2 separate regions of the Homo sapiens genome follow, and region 1 is linked to region 2. The links come from fine-mapping of genetic effects on gene expression. A gene starts in region 2. The other region holds a variant in brackets. All regions are shown on one strand. Distances are from middle to middle.

Region 1 (8,521 bases), 140 kb after region 2:
TCCTGAGTGTTAAGAGCCCCCATCCCGAGGGGGTTCACAGGGAAGTTGGAGAAAGGGAGTTCCTAGCATCTGGTCACCTCACACTGAAAAAACGAACAGCTGCCTTGCACTGGATCTAAATTCAAGCATTCCCACGAGCGCAATAGCTCAGAAGGACCCAACAACCACAAAAATAAATTGCACAGAGAAAGAAAAAAAGCATATTTATTATACTCAAACCTAATACGTGGTAAGTTTAATAGCTTTGTGGCAAATTTATACACGTCATAAAATATCATAGAACTATTCACCAAAAGAAAAAAAAAAGCGCATGTAAAATCTGGCAAAATCCAAATAAAGCTTACTTAATAGTATTGTACCAAAGGCAATCTCCTGGCTTTGATCTTTGTCCTGTGGTTAGGTGGGAAGCCATCTCTGGGGGACGCTGGGTGAAGGGTACACCAAGTATACCCTTTTTTGTGTCCAGAAAGTGTACAACCAATGGCTGTACTATGTTTGCAACTTCTGTGTGAGTCTAAAATCATTTCAAAATGAAAGTTTAAAAAAATGTGTGGGCTGGGTAGAATGGAAACAGGCCTGCTAGCCACCCTGGGGAGGGCATAAGCTCTGGCACGGGCCTTTGGGAGAACAAGATGGCAGCATCCACCAAAATGTAAAACATGCTCACCCAGCAATTCAATCCTGGGAGTCCAGCTTACAAAATGACCCGACCAAGTGTATATGGGGTGTTCTTTATGGCATGGTTGTCATTGAAAAATCTAGAAATAAACTGAATCTCCCAGAGTAGGACAATAATCAGTGAACATGAGCTGCCCAGGCCCGTGGACTCCTGTGCACTCACCATAAGGAAAGCAGCCCTGCAGGAAGATATTGGTGATGCACTGCTAAGCACAAAATGTGGCCACAAAATAACATGTATCTGCGTGCATATGTCTAGGAAGATCCCATTTCCCTAAAATCTTATCTATATACACGTGCACCATATGTGATTCTGTGAGCAGGGGAACACTTGAGAGGATGCACCTTCAAGGGGTCACAGTGATTGCTTCCCGGATGGAAGGTTCTTAGCAGAGGTAACAAAGGGTCACTTTCACTTTGTTTAAAATACATTACAATGAGAATGTGTTACTTTTATAATTAGAACAACAACAGGAACAAAAAAAGACAATGGAGGCATGGTGGGAGACGCCAGGGTGAGTGCAAAGACTGACCAGGAAAGTCACCGGGGCCACAGGAAGGGGGCAGCTTATCCCAGAAGGCCACTGAGCAGAGGCAGGCTGCCCCGATCACGGCTTGCCTACCTCTCCCTGGCAGGGCCTTCCCACAGGAGGGACATCCTTCCCTGCCCACTGTTGGGCTTGGCCGTATCATGGGCCACAGAACATGAGCAGATGAGGTCTGCCAAGTCTGAACAGAAGTTTGAAGAGCCATGGCCTGGGTCAGCCAGATCTGTGTCTCTTCTCCCTTTGTATGTCTCTGACAGGTGTTACCCTTTCAGTCTGGGTTCCCGAACGAAGGAGACCCGTGGAACAGGGCCCAAGCCAGCTGGCAACGACCACAGAACAGGGCAAGAAATAAAGCATGTTTGGAGTAAGCCACCGGGAGATGAGGATTGTTCGTTACTGCAGCCTTACCTTATGAAAGCTGACGCAGGCGCCACGAGGCATGCGCACGCGTGCACACACACGCACGTATTAGGGAACTGACAGGTAGTTGGTATTTTCTGAGGGTATGCTGTGTGCAAAACATAGGTACACTCGAGGCAGGGGACGAGAGGGTGTGCGGAGAGAATTCGGGAAGATGCCTGCCGACTCCTTGGGGAGCCAACATGCGTACACGCAGATATACACGTACCCAAACACGCTGGCATGGAGCTCACAGGGGCCACGCAGAGTGGTGAGAAAAGCCAGACAGTGGGGCTGGCAAGAGACACTGTGGGGAAGAGGAAGATCCCATGGGCAAGGACCCAGGTACTGCCTTTCTGCTTCGGTATCTAACCCCGCAGGCACCCCCTGAGCTGAATCCAGGCATTCTAATAAAGCACAAAAACAATCACTCCCAGTGTAATCGCCCTCCCCTTTAAATCAAAGGTTCCAGGAAAACACCCACCGCCTGGGGCTTCTGTGTGGGCCTTTTGTTCCTGGGAGATGCGCTCTTCCACCAGAGAAGGCCCTTCTTGGATGATATGTTCTGTGTCTCTTGGGAATGATCGGAGCGTGAACTGTATTTCCAGAAACCAGCTGTTTCTCTTCTGAATGAGGCACATCTTTGTGCAAGGCACACTCTCTTAAAGACGACAAAGGGATGTGAGCTTGACGAAGGGTGTAAATACCAAGTCTCCCTTCCCGTCTTCTCTGACTGCGTGACCACGGTTCATTCATAATGTTTCATACAAATAGGCCACTTGTCACTTTCTCCTCTAAATCTGGACATTTCTGTTTAAAGTCCACTCCCTTACCACCACCCCCTTTTGAAAATAACACAATTAAGCCATTATTAGGTCCCCCAGTAAAAGATTCAAACTCCTAAGTACACGGAGAAGCAAAATGTGAGAATCTCCCCTTAGCCCCTCCTCATCCCCACTCACAAATCACGCACTGTCTTGCAACGGCCCCTCTGTGCAGCTCCCTACGGTCGACAGGCACATACGCATTTATAGCCTTTGCTTCCCTCCCTCCCTCTTGTCCTTCCTCCCTCCTCCCTCCAAAAAAACGATGCACGCATTTTCTTAAGCCACTCATTATTCTTATTTTCACCTGACGACGGGACGAATCTGCTCGCTTGTGGGCTGTTTGGTTCAGCAAATGCGAAATTCATCAAACACCCCAACGTGTTCAGTTAACCAGGGGAACCCATGGTTAGGGGAACTGAGGCTGGGTCCGCCGTGAAGTTGTAACAGCGGTGGCACCAGGCTCCCCGATTTGAGGGGTTGGGCCTTCGGAAAGCAAAGCTTGCAGCGTCCTATGGGGCTCACATTTCCAGAAGGGGTCGGAGAACCTTCATCCTGTAGCGGGTATACCCTCCCCGAGTCCCTGAGATTCTCGGCCAACTCCACTCCAGGTCTCTACCTCCCCTTCCTCTCCCTTTACCCCCAGCCCCCAGCCCCAGCCACAGCGAGATCCCTCCGCTGAGGCATCAGGAACATTAGTGGGAGGAAATGTTCCTGCGTGTTCCTACGCAACAAAATCAAGTGCATGTGTAGGTGTTCTGTGTTTTTACAAACTCTCCTCCCTGGTTGTTATAAGATTAAAACAATTTTCCCCCTCAGTAAATGCTTCCCTTCAAAACCACTGGAGGCACATAATCTCCCAGCCCATTTGCAGCTCCTATTTTCTTGGGGCTGGGAGAAAAATAATGATTGTGGGACCTGTTTCCTTCTAAGAGGCCAGGGTTGAACAAGTGATGGACAACAGAAGTAATGTTTCAATGACAGCTCTGATCAATGTTTCTTTTATTTTGAAGTTCAAAAAAGATAGGCGAGCCTTGCACGTCCTGTGGGAAGGCACGGATAGTGGGGATGGAGGTAAATTATCTTTTATCCCCAGTAAATTTAATGGACACTTCCATTAAAACCGCAGGGAATGTTGGACGGGCGCGGTGGCTCACGCCTGTAACCCCAGCACTTTGGGAGGCCGAGGCTGGTGGATCACGAGGTCAGGAGATCCAGACCATCCTGGCTAACACTATGAAACCCTGTCTCTACTAAAAATACAAAAAATTAGCTGGGCGTGGTGGTGGGCGCCTGTAGTCCCAGCTACTTGGGAGGCTGAGGCAGGAGAATGGCGTGAACCCGGGAGGCGGAGCTTGCAGTGAGCCGAGATCGCGCCACTGCACTCCAGCCTGGGCGACAGAGAGAGACTCCATCGCAAAAAAACAAAAACTGCAGGGAATTTTCAGGTAGTTCTATTCCATTTTAAAGCTGGAGTTGAAGGTTTTTTTTTGAATTCCTAGATCATTTTTTACTGCTGAGAAAACTAAACATTTTAGCCATGTGGCACATTTTATTTTCCTTAACAATGATGGGAAATTCACACACACCTGAGGACACAGAAACACTACTTAAAATCACAACAGATTTCAAGGGAAAATGTACACAAAAGGAGAAAATGAAAAAGCTGTTTCCGTTGATGTTGGGCGGGGGGGTACTGACTTGTGTTTGTCCTTGAAAAAAACAAATTCACCTGTCACTGATCAACGATGCCAGTTTGCCACCATGCTACTGAAAAAGCATTCCTGCTGACTGTAAACGGCCCCATTTATGTGACTGTTTACATAATTGCACAGCGAAACATTGCAATCTTTCCAATTTAATACATGTTTTAAGAAGCCCTTCAACTACAGTGTAGGCTTCTGTAATCAAATCAAGTCTTTTCAATTAAAACACAATTAGAAAAGGTGTCAGGTTGTCACTGTTACATTTTGCTGCGTAAAAGGATTCAAGAATCACCTGGCTGGAAATCGGAGCTAACCCAGGATGCCTGAGCGTAAATGCCACCTCAGACCACCCAGGAGGGCACCTAGGCAGTGGGCCTTTGGTCCAACGTGAGAGATGCATACTGTCATCCTTGGGCCACCTCTGTGATGGACTGAAGGCAGAGATGAAAACCCAGTGTGGCTCTCAGCTTGACCTCCAGGTGCTGACAAGTGTGTCATGGGCCAGAAGTGGTGGGCACAAAGTTACCAGAGAGATGGCCATCTTTCCCTAGCATGAGTGACAGCACAGTGGAATTCTACAGGAAGACACTGCTGTAGATATATATATATACATTTTTGAGACTGGGTTTCACTCTTGCCCGGGATGGAGTGCAATGGCACGATCTCAGCTCACTGCAACCTCCACCTCCCCAGCTCAAGCCATCCTCTCACCTCAGCCTCCTCCTCAGTGGCTGGGACTATACAGGCTTGAGCCACCATGCCCAGCTAATTTTTGTATTTTTTTGTAGAGACAGGGTTTCATTATGTTGCCCAGGCTGGTCTGAAACTCCTGAGCTCAAGCAGTCTACCCACCTCGGCCTCCCAAAGTGCTGGGATTACAGGCATGAGCCACCTCACCTGGCCTATTGCAGACATTTGATCTATTTCATCTTAAAGATGTGAAACAGAGCTCTCAGAAGACACAGTGTTTGCCACAGGCCATGATATGAATCATTTTTTGACACAAGGTAAAATGTGCA[G/C]CCCCACGCCACCCCTACTGAAGGATCAGTATCTACTTAAAGCAGATATGCAAAGGTGCCCTGGCTCACAGTGCTAAGGGGCCCTCGTTCCGAGAGGCCATTGGGAGACAGAAGGTTCCCTCCCATCTCAACACATCAGGGACAGAGGTTAGATGTGGAAGGCTGGTGCAGGGGATTGACCCGTGGCCCCCCAAAAGATATATCCATGTCAAATCCCTGGAGCCTGTGAATGTTATGTGGGAAAAGAATCTCTGCAGATGTAATTAAGGATTTGGAGATGAGGAGATCGTCCTGGGTTACCCAGTTATAAATCCAGTGGCAAGCGTCTTTGCAGGAGACACAGATAGGAGAGACACACAGGTAGAGGAGAGGAGAGGGTGATGTGAAGACAGAGGTGGAGACTGGAGTGATGCAGACGTCAGCCAAGGAATGCCTGGAGCATCCAGAGGGACTGTGGCCCTGCCAACACCTTGATTTTGAACTTCTGGCCACCAGAACTGGAAGAGAGTACATTTCTACCCTGCTCTCTGCCAAGGGAGCTACAACCAGGGGCTCTTTGACTTCTCGGTGGGCTCAGCCAGTGCAGGGCCTAGAGGGAGGGAGGAGAGAGGCCAGACATGAAATCTCTGGCTCCCTTCCACGGGGTCACTGTGAGCTGGCTGTGTTCCTCAACCTAACGGCCATAGCTCCTTTCGAAGCAGCCCTCTCCAAGGGACTCTCTGTTTCTGGGTCCCTGGACCTGCTTTCCCCTCTTACCCCTGCAGGCTTAGAGCTCATATCAGCCCTGGTCTTCCTGATACCCTGCTCATACCTTTGTAAACAGTCCCCGTATCCAAACATCCTCGAGTTAACTGGATTGAGTGTGCCACACATACCCTGCCAAGAGCCTGATGAGCATGCTCTGTTGATGTAGCAATGCTTCTATCTTATGGCACATTTGATCTATGTGAAGGCAAGTCTACTCCTTCAGGCCATTAGCTACTAGGTCAGCGGGTCGTCCCCATTTCTCTATGAGATAAGGGTTCTGGGGTGTCTGCGCCACTTGGAAGTAAGTGAGGCTCACAGAGGTGAACTGTCATTAGGACAATACACCGTGAGTCTGGAGCAGAGCAAGGATCACACTGCAGCCGTTCAGCCCCAATTCTGGGCTGTTTCCTAGACTAAGCTGTAGACCAGGCATGGCAGATTCCTGGCCCTCTGGCTACCAACGCCTCCTCATTCACAGCCTGGCTGACATCATTCTTCAATCAGGACATGCAGACTGCGCCCAGACTTCATCCTGGGATCTTCCTCAACCCAGCTCTCTAGAAGGCAGGAGGATCAGTCAGCACTGCTGGGCAAGTGTGTCCTGCCTGCTACAGTCTAACAGGCTTTAGCCTCTGGCCATCTCCTCCTACAATGTCTCCAGGGTATAATTTCCCAAGGTAGTTTCTGAGGACGCTGGTCCCCTGGGTTCCAAGACAATGCCAGCTTTTTCTTTGGAAAGACTGAAGGTTTCAGGGTTATCTGAAAGTCCCCAGGGCTTTTGGAGGAATATAGAAGAGTTTGGCGAAGGGGCCTTGAGTTTTTCTGATGAGGGATGAATGCTGAGGCCCATCCTGGAGGTAGACAGTGGAGAAGGAGCTTGGCTATGAGAACAGATGTCTCAGTTGCCACTGGGAGAAGAACTCTGGTGGGGAAAGGGGGACGGGGGCTGGGGGGCAGCCAGGAAACTTCAGAGGATTTAGGAAGTTTAGATGCAAGCTGGGTGACATCACTTCCTCCTCTGTTGGTCGCCCCAAGAAATCCTCAGTAAAAATCCACATGACCACGACTGTTTTGCAGTGTGGTTTGTGCGTCTGTGGATTAACATGGTATGAGGCTGATTTCCATGGTGGGCATTTCAATCGCCCCACAAGCACACTGGAGGCCCTAAGGAGTCCTGTAGTTTAGAGAACTGCGGGACCTCAACACAGCGTTTCCTTAAACCTGTTCATTTCCAGAACCTGATTTTCATGGTGCAGCTTAATAATGCCCAGCGTGCATCCTGTTCCCCACAATGGTCTGGCGTAATTATGGCCAGATCCATGATTGTGCTGCCATCTTTATTCAAATCACAGTTGAAGAGTCCCTCCTTTGAGGGACAGAGAGCCTTTCAGATCCAGTTGGTCTCCGACTTTTGCACATCTGATGCTCCACAGCTCACATTCCTGTACAGGGTGTATTTACAGAGGGCCCCGCACCGCCGTTCCTATGTTCAGACTTTCCTACAGTAGGCTACCGTAGGGTCACGACATGGCGGTGCCACTGACCAGGCAACAATTCAGTATCACGCCCCCAGTGGCTAGCGGGGAGTGGGAGGCAAGTCGGGAGGGGCCTCCTTCCACAGACTTCTCTTCCTCCGCTCCTTCCTCTTCCTAGAGGGCTGTCCTATGGCTCCAGCAGCATCCGGCCTGGGCACATGCTTCCTGGGACACCTGCCGATCTCTAGAGGCAGGGAAGGGGGAGGATGAGGCACATCAAAGGGCTTAAGTGGGGACTCAGGGGAGCCACTTCCCGGCACCTGGCTCAGGGGCAGAGGCTTTTCCTGACATTTTACATGTTGATGAGGCACAGTTACTTGCAGGTAAAGTCACCAGCATCACCAGCACAAGCCACCACTGAGGCTACTCATGACTGAAGCCCTCTGGTGATGGGGCTCCATTACCCACCTTTGCACAAAGAGGAAAGCACCCTGAACCCTCATGAAGGCAAAAGCTCCGGAGTCAGACACACCTGGATTCAAAGCCAGATCTGCCTCTTTCTAGCTTGAGTTTGACCAAATTTCTAAATTTCTCAAAGCCTTAGTTTCCTTGTTTCTAAAAAGAGGGCTGAAAATAGCATTTGTGCTCTCTGTGCAAGGTGAGGATTCCACGGGAGAGCCCAGTAGAATGAGTAGCCCATGGCCTGGCACACAGGAAGTGCTCAACTGACGTCAGCAATACTGCCGCTGCTGCTGTTTCATCAACACATTTCAGCGACGCCGGGGACTGTCTGCGGGGGAAACCCACTCACTCCTGGGATTCAGGAAAATTGGCGGTTCCAATATTTGCTGTGCCAGCGCCTGGACAGCTTCTTGCTCTCTGGCGCCTCTCCAGGCCTGTCCCCACTACTGCATCTGCTCCAAAGGACCCTTTCCTAAAAAGAGGATTCAAAAAGACAGATGTTGCTCACCGCCATAACTGCAGCTTCCTCTTGGGTATACAGAACTGGCAGAGCACTGGAAAAGGCGAGACTTTCGGAGAGAAAGAGGGCAGCTACCTAAAACCTGTCATGGCTGGTTCTTCCAGTCGCACAGGATCCCTGGGGAGGGACCCGGGGAAGACACG
Region 2 (8,000 bases):
TGTACTGGTGCAGGGCCTGCAGGACCGTCTCCTCGGAGTTGACAGGTTTCAGTTTCGGGGCAGTGGCCACTGCGCAGCACAATTCCCGCAGCTGTTCTTTATAGCGCTGTGTTTTCTCCTGGAAGGTTTTCACACAGTGGTTCATGTCATCCTCCTTGGACATTCCTTGGCAGCTGAGGAATGGCACAAAGCCTGCAAGAGCCGAATGGAATCACAGCCTTCAGCAAGACTGGCCAGCAAGGAATTCAGAGCCCGCCTAAACTCCCCAGCATTTCAGCCCACCCTTTGGCATTTCTTCCTCAGCCAACAGCACTACGTTTTTCCAAAGGCCATTAATACAAGCAGTGCTGTTGTTTCCACTGCGGCTGGGCCCTCCCAAGGCCACAAAAAATGACCTTGGAGCTGGGGAGGGAAGGCCCATTTCAACAAAGGCGATGACAGTAATACTCTTTGAATAGCAAAGCCCCTGATGTCAGCCTGACGGAAAATGGGGAAAGCATTTAATGGGCCAAAATGATAGTCTAAGGAGTAATTGAAATTATTCATCTTTTTAAAGAGAAAGCTTATTTTCCTCGACACTTCCCAAATGCAATTTGGGATCTTTCTTGCCGGACCATCAGGAAATTGCAGGCTTATTAAAAGTAGAGCCCTGTTACACAAAAAGGTAAATTCATTATCTGCAAGACCCACCCCTAGCACAATTTTTCACCATTTCCCACCAAGTAACATATAATCATTACAATTAGTATGGGTAAAACACAACTATTTACTTAAACTGGAGGCTGAATCCTAAGTACTATAATATTGTCACAATAAAACCATTTTTTTTTTTTTTGAAGAACAAATGAGGAAAACTGGTTAAGAACTTAGTTTCAAACTGCAAAATAAATAAATAAATCTCTCTCCTTATGGAAACCCAACATTTTTGCCATGGTCTCCAGGAAAACAAAACCTGGCTTCAGAGTTGAAAGTAGCAATCCTCACCCCCAGAGCCCTACAATAACCCCCTCTGGAAGAACCTAATTACTAAACTAATCTTGACAGTGTTGGAAGCCTTCCATGCATCGCCCAGACTCCCCAACCCTTGGATGATTAAAAGATATCCTAACATTATGAAGACCCTAGGGGCTTTGCCACAGTGGTTTCCCTGCCATCAGGGCCGACTTTGGTCTGCCTAGGTTTTATATTAGTGCATATATGCACAGACATAAGCATACGAACTACCTTTATCGAGTCTCGCTAAGGACCAAGACATTTAAAATAGGTTATGTATGCTGGCTCCTTTAATCCTCACAACAATCTTATGGTATCCCATGTAGTGGGTTGAACTGTATCCTCCAAATAGATATATGCAAGTCCTAACCCCTGGTACCTGTGAATGTGCATTTATCTACAAATAGGGACTTCTCAGATGTAATTAAGTTAAGGGCCTAAAAATGAGATCATCCCGGATTTAGGGTGGGTCCTAAATCTGATGACTGATGTCCTTATAGAGGAAAGAAGAGAGAGACTTGTGACACAGAGACAAAGGGGGAAATGCCGTGTGAGGATGAAGAGAGTGACTGGAGAGATGCTGCCACAAGCCAAGAACACTGGGGCCACCAGAAGCTGGAAGAAGCAAAGGTGGGATCCTTCCCTAGCGCCTTCAGAAAGAGCATGGCCCTGCGGGCACCTCGATTTCAGACGTCTGGCCTCAGAACTGTGAGGGAATGCATTTCCATCACTTTAAACCACATAGTTTGTGGTAATTTGTTGCAGTGGTCCTAGAAAACAAATACATCCATTTTATAGAATGTTGTACTTACCACAGAGAGGCAAGTTACTTACAGTCTCATCGACAGTGACCAAACAGAGATTCGAACCTCAGCTTGTCAGAACCCAAAGCCTATTCTCAACCAGCCATTAGGACCAGAGTGAGGTTGGGCAACCCTGGAATATCACCCAAGTACTATTCCTCCTGAGAACGGCTGTATGGGAGAGCCAAGGGTCTGTGGGGACCACTGGGTTTGTCACCCACAGGGATATGACTTAGTAAGTTCTCAGTAGCCCAGAAGCCTGAGGAGGAATAGCCTCTAGGTAGGGCAACCAATCGTCCTGGTTTGCCAAGGACTGAGGAGTTTCCCAAATGCAAGATTTTCAGTGTTAAGGAAAGTCCCAGGCAGTCCCAGGACAAAGGCAGTCCCAGGTAGACCAGGGCAGTTGGCCAGCCTTCCTTTAGGGGATGCAGGAAAGGATGGGAGCACAAGAATAACCTTTGTGGAGGACTTGAGAAAACCAACTTGGGGAGAACAGGGCCTCTACTTATTCATGTGTCTATCCTCATCACATTGTGTCTATCCTCATCACATTGTGTCTATCCTGGTCCAAATTCATTCAACAGGCATTAAGTGCTTCCTCTGCATACCAGGCCATGTTCTGGGACGTGTGGTCTAAGTTCTGCCCCTCAGAACCCGGCCATCAGCCATCTTCAGCGATGGAATGCTCTCAATGCATGTCTGAGAAGCTAGAGCGCCTAGACTGGTCCAGTTGGCTGCACAGACACAGACAGTGGGTCAAGGCAGGGACAGTGACCAGGACCCGGGTTCCCCTGCCAGGCACAGCTGCAGGGTACGTCCACACTTACCGCTATAGCCTGGTGTGATTGGCAGGTTTCTCATGAAGGTCTTGGAAGGCTCCATGATTTCGCTCTCTGTTAGTGGAGGGAAGAGGGAATGAAACGGTCTCATCAAAAGTCACTGCCTTAAGGAATTACTATTGAGTGTGCACAAGCTCTTGGGAGTGGAAGAATGACTGCCAGGAGTTGGGGCTGAGAGGCAGCACTACCACCTTACCCAAAGCCAGAGACACAGCTGGCTTCAGTCACAAACCAATGACCTATTACCAAGGGCCCATCACCTTTTATGTTAACTTGGATAACAGTGTGTAGATCACACCTACCAGGGTCTCCTCTCCCCTCCATCCGACCTCCAGCCATCCAACAATTGTGAACTGTACTCATACTATGGCTGTGAAACATGATAGAGGCTGGGAATGCAAAGCTTCTGAGCAAGCCCAGAAGCCCCTGTGTTAGGTTCATGAGCCTCAGGTGAGGAGAGAGATGAGGCCCGCACACCCCCAGACCTCCTTCTTGATCCAGGTGAAATCAGGTTGCAGTGGTGATTTTTGCCAGCCCCCACCATTACCCCTGGAACATCTGGCAATGTCCAGAGGCATATTTGGCTGTCAGAAGTGGGGGATGGGATGCTACTGAACATCCTGCAATGCTCAGAAGCCTCCCCCCACCCGCCGGCACACACATGCACACACACACACACACACACACACACACACACACACAAACAAGGGAGAAGAAATTCTGGCTTGAAGGAATCAGGAAGTCCCAAAAGGCAGACATGGAGTCCAAGGAGGGTAAGCAGAGGCCACCCTCTGCTTCAGGGGGCTCCACTGAAACATCAGTTTATGTGGATGCTGTTTCTGCAATAAGACACCTTCCCTCTTTGGGTATCGCTGGTCATTCCCCCCAAGTGGGCTGAGGCCTTGCCAAGTCCTGCCCTGCTGAGCCAGTTCATCTCTTTAAAGAAATGCCTTTGAGGCTGGAAGAAGAGGATTCAGGGTGGAGGAGAGGGCCACAGTCATGGCTTAGTCAGCAATGATGGGGATTGTTAAGACAGTTCAGCCCCCGCCAGGCTGACAGCAGTGAGGACTGTGCCGCGTCTAGGCCACTCTAACCCCTGGCATCACGTACCTGACTCCTGGGAGGAAGCACTGGGCCTGGAGTCAGACAGACCTGGCTGTGAGACCATGTCCCACCCATACTGACCACCTGCTTACTTTTCTGAAAGCTTTCCACGCTTGTTTAATCCTCTCAACAGCCCCATGATATAAATGCTATATTATACCCATTCCCCAATTTAAAAAGGCAACAGACAGGGAACACTGGCTATCCCCATGTGGTTGCAGCAGAACCGCATTCTCCTTTAATCCCCACAGCTTCCCTAAGAATGAGTTCCTGTTGGAACCCCCATTTTATAAATGTGAAAAATAAGGCACAGAGAGGTTAGGTAACTGGTTTCAGGGTTCCAGAGTGAAAGGGGGTGCGAACAGATGACCTCTAAACTCTCAGGGACAGGATATGTTGCCCAAAAGCATCAGCTGGGGTATAAGCCTGCCTGGAGGAGGTGGGCAGGGAGGAGGGTGGGAAGAAAGGCGGTGTCCTGAGAAAGGGGGCTAGGAGTGGGTAGAAAGTAGGGCCCCTCCTAGCCACCCTCTTCCAATCCCACCTCAGCGCTCACCTGGGCGGGGCTGGCGCTATCCGGTGCCCACTTGGCCTCTGCCCGGCCGCCCAGGATCCCTGCCTTCCACCAGGCCTTTGTGCGCTCACCCGGTGGAGCACAAAGGCCCCACCACCGCCAGCCTGCCCCTCCCCCACCCTTCCCGCGGTCCCACCTGGAAGGTGGGCGCTTCCCCCAGCGCCCGGCACAGCCCGGACCCCGGTGTAAAGTCGGGCATCTGCGCAGTAAACATCTGGCCTCGGAGCTGTCCTCCGCGCCTTGGCTGCCCCAGCCAGGGGAAGGATATGCGGAGGGCTCTAAGTCAAAGCGGGCGTTTTTGCGGGTGTAGACACTGCGGCGCCTGGGTCTGCAGGTCTGGCCGGGGAAGCGGGTGGGCGGGAACAGGGGGCGGGGCCGGCAGTGGGCGGGAGGAGGCGAGGCCTGGGGGCCCTGGCGCCTCCAATACAGGAGCTTCCTGGGCCTGGCAGCCCCTCCCTCCCTGTCTCCTGTTAGGAGGGGCAGATTTTCAGGTGGCCGGGACAGGTGAAGGCAGAGAGGAGTGGCTGTCCACCTGGGGAAGGTGAGTCATCCTTCTTTCTAATCACTCTTGGAGGGACACCCAGACTTCCTCTCATTGAATTGAAACCCACCAAGATGTCCGCCCTATGAACCAGCATGTGCTGGCTGCTCCCTTTACAGAAAATGACGCTGAAGCTGCGCTACTTCCAGGACACGCTTGTTTGCTGCACCTCCCGGCCTTCCCTACCTCTACTTTTCTGAAAATTGAACTGCAAATGAAGGCTGGTGGAGCCGACCACCATTTATACCTCTCTTTTATCACCCCATTTAGAACATACCTCGGGCCATCAGGAAGCTTTCAGAGCCAACTGTGGAGGGCGACTCAGGTGTAGGCTCTGGACACAGCCAGTTTCACGTGACGGCTGGGATGCCCAGGGGCAAGAGCCCAGCCAGGCCTTCTGCATGTTTTAATGACTTACACTGGGGTGCAGTGGCATTGGCAGTGGTCACTCTGCTTACCTGCCCTCCCTCTGGCTAGACCACTTTCTTCCAGAGAAAAGGGGCTCTGTGCCCATCGATGGGGCCTTGGTTCCCAGCAAACAAAGGGCCTAGTCTTGTTAGAATAACTTAAGAAAACTTACAGCACCTGGAAAAAACTGAAACTCTCTCTCCACCACCTGAGATGGGGTAGAGAGGGAGATCAGTACTGACGTGTCCATCATGCAGTTTGCAAACCCAGGATGGGGGGAAAAAAAATCTGGGCCACATGAGATTCAGAGTTTTGCTTTATTAGGCGTCTGTGAAGACAAGAGAGTTTGCAGACACAGTCCCGTCTGGTGGTGAACTGCTGCAAAGTTCTGTGAAGTTTGAATTTATCTTGTAGTGAATGAGACCCCAGTAGCTGATATTTTAGAATACTGGTCCATATTTCAAGCAGATGAGAGGTGTGGCATTATGGCCAACAACTTTTATATTAGCCATCCACTCAAGCCGTTTCCCAGCATACATATGCAGCTTAATCACAGCTATACATCTCTACAATGTGAAATTCGATCTTTGACTAATAATGCATTCTGACTCCTGTTTACATTGGTGCATGCGATTCTTTGCTACCCTGGCAATTAACCAGACCTGGACTCTAAAAGCTAAACTTGGTCTAAATAACATTCTAAGGGTAAGGCAACCTCTATAATCTGGACTCAGCCATCATTTTGCAAAAACAGTTGTATGGTTCCTCCTCTTTCCCCTCCTGTCTGTAACTTGTCTGTTACTCAGCATTTATTCATGCCTGCTGTGTACGGAAAGGGCAGTTACAAAGGAAAGCCTTGATGATTCTGCTTCCAAGAAACGTGAAGATCAGATAATATGCCAGGGACAATTGAGTAATGGGTCAAGACAACAGGCCTTGTAGGTATTTTCTAAGGTTAGAAAAATGTGTTCAAGTGTACTTATCCAGTGCTCTTATTCTAGAATATTCCAGTGGGGGTAGGGAAGGAGGGATGGATTTGGGGGTTTCATTTAAGGACTCTGACAACTGGGGCTGCAGCTCTGTGGCCAGAAGATAAAATTATCATCCTCTCCATCACCTATCTGCCAACACTGCAGATTTCTATCTGCTCATTTAAGAGAAACAGTACACAGGGAGATAGCATTAATGCAAGGCAGGAAAGGCTTTACATTAGCCCAAAAAAGAGGGGCTTGACCATGTTACTCACACTTACACTTAGCCCAGCAGAAAAGCTGGGCTTATGTACCACTTGGTTTCTTTCTTTGACCCTAGCATCCTGAAAACATCACACACAGTGGACCACGCTTTGCCCTCAGAGTGACTGCTCCGACCCGGAAGGAGAGGTCAACGACCCCTCAGGACACAAAGGGTTTCTTAGGTTGTTCTGCGCAGTCACATGGCTTCCAGAACCAGAACGTTCAGCTCTTAAAGTCTGCACAGAAGAACTGATAGAATCTGCTCCTTTCAATGGAATCTGTGACTGTTTGGGAAGGATGTGCATGGAGAAGGGTCTGATGAGGCTCCTGATCCAGGCGGTCCACGTGCGTTCAGTGTGTTTGGACCCTAGGCACCTCTGTCTATTGCTCGGTCTTGCGTACATAGTCCATAGCTTGGCATCAGCACAGATCGATGCTTAGTGAGCACAATTAAGAAACCAAACTATGGAAAATTAAGGACAGTAACAAAAGTATCATCAACAAAAATCAAGCATTTTCCTCTTTTTGAAACAAGAAAAGCGCATCGTAGAAACCAAGATTCTGTACAATATTCTAACATTATATGTACATAAAATTATATTACTCATAACTATATTGAAAAGTCTTATTTGTAGAATATGGCTGGCAACAAAGAAAGACCCATACCATTTAGCGTTTGAAGCAGGGCAGGTAGCAAGAGAACATTAGCAAAGACACCTTTGTGCCTGGATACACAATCCTGCTACTAAGTTATGTGACTAACCAGCACACTCTAAGTTCTGTGGTTTGTTCGTTGTTTCACATTCTAGTAGGGAATTCTGCAGCAGGCGATGCGAAAAAGAAGACATGGTCAAATGAAATGTGAAATGCTGTTTAAAATCTGCATATTGGCTATGATAATGGGTTTGTGAATCCAAGTTGCATTGGAAGTTCACTCATTCTCCATTCATTATGCATGCCTCCAGTGATTTAATGAATTTCAGCAGGTGGAAAAGACAGCTTTGAACAGATCAGATGGGCTGTGAGTCAGATTCTTGATTCTTTTTCCTCATTTGGCTCCTGAATGTTGCAGAAAACTGGTTTTGTACACTGGGGAAGGAGAGAGTGAAGACCCTCCAGTTGGTTCCTCAGTCAGCTCCGTTCTTGGTGTCGCTTTCTTGCAATTTTTTTCCTCCCCTGGCCCTTCCTGTGAGGGTTAAAAGGGCCATCTCCAAGCCAGGTGGAGCCCCAATCCCATTGACCAAGAGGGCAAGGTATGGGGTCACCTTCTCATGGAAGCCCTCTTCCTAAAGGAGCCCAAAGGGGACACCTGCAGAGGGCGGGCTGTGATCTGTGTGTGAACTTCAACAAAATCTCAGGTTAGTATTTCTCCAATTTCAGTTGAACCACGATGTGGTATACACTACAAATGCAGATTCTGGTGCCCCTCTCCAAGAGTCGGCCTCAGTTAAAAAGGGCTCAGATCCAGGAACCTGTTCTGAACACGCACCCAGGCAATTCTGATGC

What was found. PIP is the estimated chance that this variant, and not a neighbour inherited with it, causes the effect. A credible set is the group of variants that fine-mapping cannot tell apart.
Region 1: its variant is the best candidate, but not a certain one, in a credible set for the expression of SPMIP5 in anterior cingulate cortex (GTEx, PIP 0.85).

The regions. Positions count from the first base shown.
Region 1 is chr10:116,801,449-116,809,969 of GRCh38, forward strand. It overlaps a transcript of HSPA12A not described here. Among named protein-coding and RNA genes, the nearest start is that of MIR9851, 22 kb to the right of the region's middle. The variant G/C (reference allele first, on the strand shown) is at 5,175.
Region 2 is chr10:116,665,635-116,673,634 of GRCh38, forward strand. It overlaps SPMIP5 (sperm microtubule inner protein 5), which reads right to left and starts at 4,332. Exons shown (of 6, transcript NM_001350931.2): 1 at 4,293-4,332; 2 at 2,624-2,689; 3 at 1-192. The coding sequence starts at 2,678. HSPA12A (heat shock protein family A (Hsp70) member 12A) reads right to left here. Exons shown (of 12, transcript NM_025015.3): 12 at 5,558-8,000. It overlaps HSPA12A-AS1 (HSPA12A antisense RNA 1), which reads left to right and starts at 4,421. Exons shown (of 3, transcript NR_187551.1): 1 at 4,421-4,644; 2 at 4,760-4,851; 3 at 6,571-7,104.